2 separate regions of the Homo sapiens genome follow, and region 2 is linked to region 1. Evidence: fine-mapped expression QTL. Tissue or cell type: blood mononuclear cells. Region 1 holds a variant in brackets; the other region holds the start of a gene. All regions are shown on one strand. Distances are between the middles of the regions.

What was found. PIP is the estimated chance that this variant, and not a neighbour inherited with it, causes the effect.
Region 2: it holds the start of SPAG17, and the variant in region 1 is the best candidate, but not a certain one, in a credible set for the expression of SPAG17 in blood mononuclear cells (TOPMed, PIP 0.69).

Annotation. Positions count from the first base shown.
Region 1 is chr1:118,037,477-118,040,395 of GRCh38, forward strand. SPAG17 (sperm associated antigen 17) reads right to left here. Exons shown (of 49, transcript NM_206996.4): 23 at 1,816-1,968. Among named protein-coding and RNA genes, the nearest start is that of WDR3, 110 kb to the left of the region's middle. The variant G/A (reference allele first, on the strand shown) is at 1,537.
Region 2 is chr1:118,184,081-118,186,999 of GRCh38, forward strand. It overlaps SPAG17 (sperm associated antigen 17), which reads right to left and starts at 1,148. Exons shown (of 49, transcript NM_206996.4): 1 at 991-1,148. The coding sequence starts at 1,077. It overlaps LOC105378930 (a long non-coding RNA gene), which reads left to right and starts at 1,150. Exons shown (of 4, transcript XR_947746.3): 1 at 1,150-1,733; 2 at 2,075-2,201.

The DNA.
Region 1 (2,919 bases):
AGTTTTTTGATCCTTACCCTTCTCCCAACCTTCCCTCTTAAATAGGCCCCACTGTCTGTCATTCCCATCTTTATGCCCATGTTTACTCAGTGTTTAAATCCACTTATTAGTGAGAAAATGCAGCATTTGTTTTTCTGTTCCTGTGTTAGTTCGCTTAGGATAATGGCCTCCGCTGCATCCATGTGCTGCAAAGTATATGTTTTAGTTTTTCGTGGCTGCATAACATTCCGTAGTGTGTATGTACCACATTTTCTTTATCCAGTCCACCACTAATGAGCAACTAGGTTGATTCCATTTCTTTGCTATCATGAATAGAAAACACACATCTGAAGGTATATGTAAAGAATTTGTGAATTTTCTGACTTGTTTTATTTTCAGTTCACCATTTTCTCTATTATCAGATAATAAAGATGGGGCAATATTGATTTAAAATAATGTAACTCATGCAAAGATAATTTTTAGACTGGGAAATTCAAATGAACCATGGAACAAAAGGTAATGCTTTAAGAGAATAAAAAGAGAAGACACAGAGTTGAAGAAAATATCTGCAAAAGACATCTGTTAAAGGACTATTACTCAAAATGTATGAAGAATTCTTAAAGCTCAATAACCAGAAAATAAAAACCTGATTAAAAAATGGGCATGAAACTTCAACAGACACTTCACCAAGGAAGAGATACAAATGGCAAATAAGCATATGAAAAGATGTTCAATATTATTTGTTATCCAGAAAATGCAGATTAAAACAACAAGATACCACTAGACACCTTATAGAATGGAGAAAATCTAAAACAGAAAATAATGGTGAGGATATAGAGCAACAAGAACTTTCATTCATTACTGTGGGAATGCATAATGGTACAGCCAATTTGGAAGACGATTTGGTGGATTCTTCCAACATGAACATACTCTTACCCTATAATCCAAAAGTCACACTCCTTGGTGCTTACCCAAGGGAGTTGAAAACTTATGTCCACACACAAACCTGTACACGAATATTTGTAGCACCTTTATTCACAATTGCCAAAAGCTGGAGGCAACCAAGATGTCCTTCAGTAGGTGGGTGGGAAAATAAAATTGTGGTACATCTAGACAATGTAATATTATTTAGTTTTCAAAAGAAATAAGCTATCAAGCCATGAAAAGACACACAGGAAACTTAAATGCATATTACTAAATGAAAAAAGTCAATCTGAAAAGGCTACATAGTGTATAATTCCAACTACATGCTATTATGGAGAAAGCAAAAGTATGGACACAGTAAAAAGATCAGTGATTACCAGGGATTAGGAAGGAGGGAGAGATGAATAGACAGAGCACAGATTTTCAGGGCAGTGAAACTACTCTGTATGATAGTATAATGGTAGACACATGCCATTATACATTTGTTCAAACCCTTAGAATGCACAACACCAAGGGTAATGTAAACTTTAGACTCTGGGTGATAATGATATGTTAATGTAGGTTCATCAACTGTAACAAATGTACCGCTCTGGGTGAGGCATGTTAATAGTGGAAGAGGCTGGACATGTGTAC[G/A]GGAAGAGGGCATTGAGAAATCTCTGTAACTTCTGTTCAATTTCATCATGAACCTAAAACTGCTATAAAAAATAAAGTCTGGTAAAGAAAAAAGATAACGCTTAATATCCATTAGGGTTCAGTTCAGGAAAATAGGCAACTTCATGCACTATTAATAAGAGAGTGTACTGGTAGAAACTTGAGAAAAAGAACATGCAATAAGCCATTCATTTAATGGAGTGGAGTGGACAGAGACAGGAGTATTAGTCAGAAGAAAGAAACCACTAAACAGCAGCTTACCCGTTTCAAGACTTTGTTCCTCATCTCCTTCTTCTTCCTCTTCTAAATAATAATCCCCTTTCTCTTCCTTTTTCACAATTTCCTTAGGGTCATTTAAATGAATCATAAAATTGTGGTTGTCCTTTACCACTCTCACTTTGATAAAAGTTGGGCCTGAGGAGGAACCATAGAATAGAAGATGGGCTGATTAGGATGCCACATTAAGCTCCTCGACAAGATGGTTACACAATGCTGCACAGAAACAAACACACGAACAGAAAACCAAACACTGCATGTTCTCACTTAGGAATGGCAGCTAAACATTGAGCACACATGAACACAAAGAAGAGAACAATAGACACCAGGGCTACTTGAGGGTGGGAGGAGGGTGAGGACCAAAAACTACCTGCCGAGTACTCTGTTTATTACCTAGGTGATAAAATAATATGCATACCAAAGCCCTGCGATACACAATTTACCTATAGAACCAACCTGAATAGATATCCCTGAAACGAAAATAAAAAGGCAGCATAGAATATAAAACCAGGGAGAGGAAATGCTTAGAGATGTCACCTCTATAAAAGAATGCCTAAGGAAATAAAGTAATGGTGGAATTCCAGGCATGAATGGCAGGTAGACCAAGGAGGTATTTGCAGGCCTTCTAGTCACATTTCAAACTCAATTTCAGAAGAGAAAATGAACTGGCTGAGGCAATGTATGCCTATAATCAATGTTATGATTCATCAAATGATATAATTAATGTTAAATGGTTTTGCAACTTATAAAAATTATGTTATAGTAGCTATTATTATTGTGGTCGTTAATAAAAATTTTTCCAACAACGCATTCTCTTTTTTAGTGTTTGGACTCATTTCCCTTCTTTTTGTTTTAAAAAAATTGGCTATTTCCTTTCAATTTGGATTGAGCTATCATCCCTCAAAATTGACAGAACTAGGAGAAAATATTGAATTTACTACGAATCACCTGAAACTTATACGCATTGTATGCATATGCAAATCTTAGTAAGAGCTACAATAGGTGGATATTGGAAGCAGGTCCCAAACTCTGTGCTCCAGAGCTACACCAGAAAAATGCTGTAAACTCACAGAATGCACTTGGCTTCTG
Region 2 (2,919 bases), 150 kb after region 1:
AAAAAAAAACAGTTATAGTGGAAAATAAAGACAGGTAAAAATTTCTCATGAAGGCAACACAAGACTTTAGATCCATTTTCCCTTTAAGTACTGACTCTCTAGTGCACCATACAGACATATATAAAATGAAAAAAAAATTTTTTTTCCCCACTTTTCAAAGTAGTTCATAATGGCGGGCTGGAATTTCCAGAAACAACTTTTCTCTTCCCAAATGCTAACTTGTACGTAGAAACAGCTTAATGTAGAAGGGGATTTCCAGCTGCAGGTGACAAGAGCTATTGGGCTCCTCATTTACTGAAGCTGGGTGGGGAGCCAGTGAATTCTGGGATCTCATGCACTTTGAAGTCCTGTGGTAGGTGGTTTGTAGATTGCCTGGTGCCTTTGTGGCATTCTGTGGGTAAGTTGGCCGCCAACCCCTCATTGCTCTGATCTCCCACACCTTAAAAATATGTCAAAACTTTAATATAGTGGGATCAGGGCATTACATTAAAAAATCATCTTTTCCTATCTATACAAGGCTCGCTTGTACTAAATACAGTGTAATTCTAGGCACTCCGTGTCTGTTTTCACTCAGCATTTATTAAAGCCCTATTATGGGCCAGGCCACAGATGATTTGATGCGATTCTCATCCTTTAGAAGGTTTCAGGAGAAAACAAAAAGTCCATAAAAGGAATTCCAGTACAATTGTGGAGTGCCATCTGGACGACTTCACTGAAAAGGTTCTGGAGGTGTCAGAGCGACACCTCCTCTCTTCCCCACTAGGCAGTTCTCACCAACCTTTGAAATCACACTGACTCACCTGGTGGGTGTTCCCTTAAGTTCCGTTCGTTTATCAAGCACTTCCTGTCCCTGGGACCCTGGGTCCTGGAACCATCAGGCCACGGAGAGATACGGAAGAGAGGGCGAGCCTTAAGGCGTCGCCTAGGAGGGTCTGGCCGGGCCTCTGGCATTGCCGGGGGCAGGGAGGGCTTAAAGGGCTCAAGGCTCACCTGATTGAACTGTGCAGCTATGAGCGAGGGTTCCCATATCTTAGAACTGGTGTTCACAGTTCCTCCTTTCTCCTTCTTGGGTGCCATGCAAAGGACGGGAGAAGCATTGGCCTCTAAACTGGGCGCAGGCCCTGCCTAAGCGTCCCCGCTACCACAGTAACCGAAGCCACGCCCAGTTCCTGAACCACGTCGGCTCCCCTCCCCCAACACCGTTCGGAATCCTTGGGTCAACCGCCTCCGTCTCCACAGCAACGGAGTTTCAGAGCGCGCGGCAGCTTGGGGGCGGGGTTCCCAGTCCCCCGGTCAAATTTTAGGACTTTTCAGCAGGAAAGCTGCACAACTGGAGGAGGGCAGGACGAGGCTGGCCTCGCAGGTCGGGCTACGTTCTTCTACGGTCTGAGGCGTTGTCTAGAAACTCAAAATCTCTGGAATCCCATCCAGGACTCCTCCATCAAGATTTCTTCCGATCCTGAGTAACCAAGATTGGAATACTGACCCCTTCAGGAGGCAGCCCATGCCGTTTTTTCCCAACCGCTCTAATCTGCCCCAAATGCTTCCTTATATGAATCCAAATTTGTCTCTCCTTGACCTCTACCCTCTGCACTGTTTCAGCCTCCGCCTCTGGGGCCTTACTAAACAAGTCCAATCACCCTTCCACGTGACCCCTTATCTAACTGTAGGTGGGATTAATGTACTTATCTGCCCAAACAGCTCCAGTCCTTTAAACTGCCTTTTATTGATTGGTAAGTAGACTTTTTTTTCCCCTTTTTTCCCACCCTGCACTCATCAATATCTAAAATATCCTGGTTGGACAAGTTTCCCAAAATAATGATAGTAATAAAAACCATTGTTTCTTGGGCACTGGTTATATGCTATATACAAGATTATTTCATTTAATTCTCACAACCACCTTATCCAATTCCCACAGTGTCTGATTGATGGTGCCAGGATTAGATCCCAGGATTATCTGAGTCACAGATCTAGTGTGCATAACTGCTACACTGCTGTCTACTACTGTTTTAGGCCTGCCAAAATGAGGGATACCCCCTTCTGGAGCTAGATTTACTTTTGTTTTTTATTGCAGTGAGACAAATTTGAGGACACCCTGGGGCAGAGCGCAACCAAAGGTGCCTTGCGGTCTCATTAGTCATATGGAATTCAGCACTGACCAGGGCTTAACTAGCCATTAAGGCCCTGCACTTTGCCTAGAGGTGAGATGCTTCAGTTATCCCAGTGGCCCAGATGAGTGAGGTGATGCAAGCCAGAAACTTAATTTCCCTGGGCACAACCTGATGAACGGGTGACCTTCCACGGGGGATGTTCTAAACCTTTTAATTGCTAACCCTTTTAATTTCTTTGAGGAATAAATTGAGGGAAGGAGGATAGTGCTATCCAGCCACTAGCATCCTTTTTCATTTGGGGGCAAATTTTAATGATGATGCTTCAACTTTTGTTCGTAATTTGGACCATGAAAGGAAGTTTATCTTTCCACCCTAATTCTTTAATATAGTTAGAGTGAGCCCTCCCATCATCACAGTTCTTCATCCCTGGATTTAACCAACTTTGGATCCAAAATATTAAAACATAAATAAATATACAAATAAAAATACAGCATAACAACTATTTTACAGCATTTACATAATATTAGATATTATAAATAATCTAGATATGATTTAAAGTGTAGGAGAGGATGTGCGTAGGTTATGTGCAAATACTAGGCCATTTTATTGAGAGGTGAAGCCAGCTGGACTTCCTGGGTTGAGTGGGGACTTGGAGAACTTTTCTTACAACAGGATTGTAAAATGCACCAATCAGCACTCTGTAGCTAGGATTGTAAAATGCACCAATCAGTGCTCTGTAGCTAACAAGGGGATTGTAAAATGCACCAATCAGTGCTCTGTAAAAATGCACCAATCAGTGCTCTGTAAA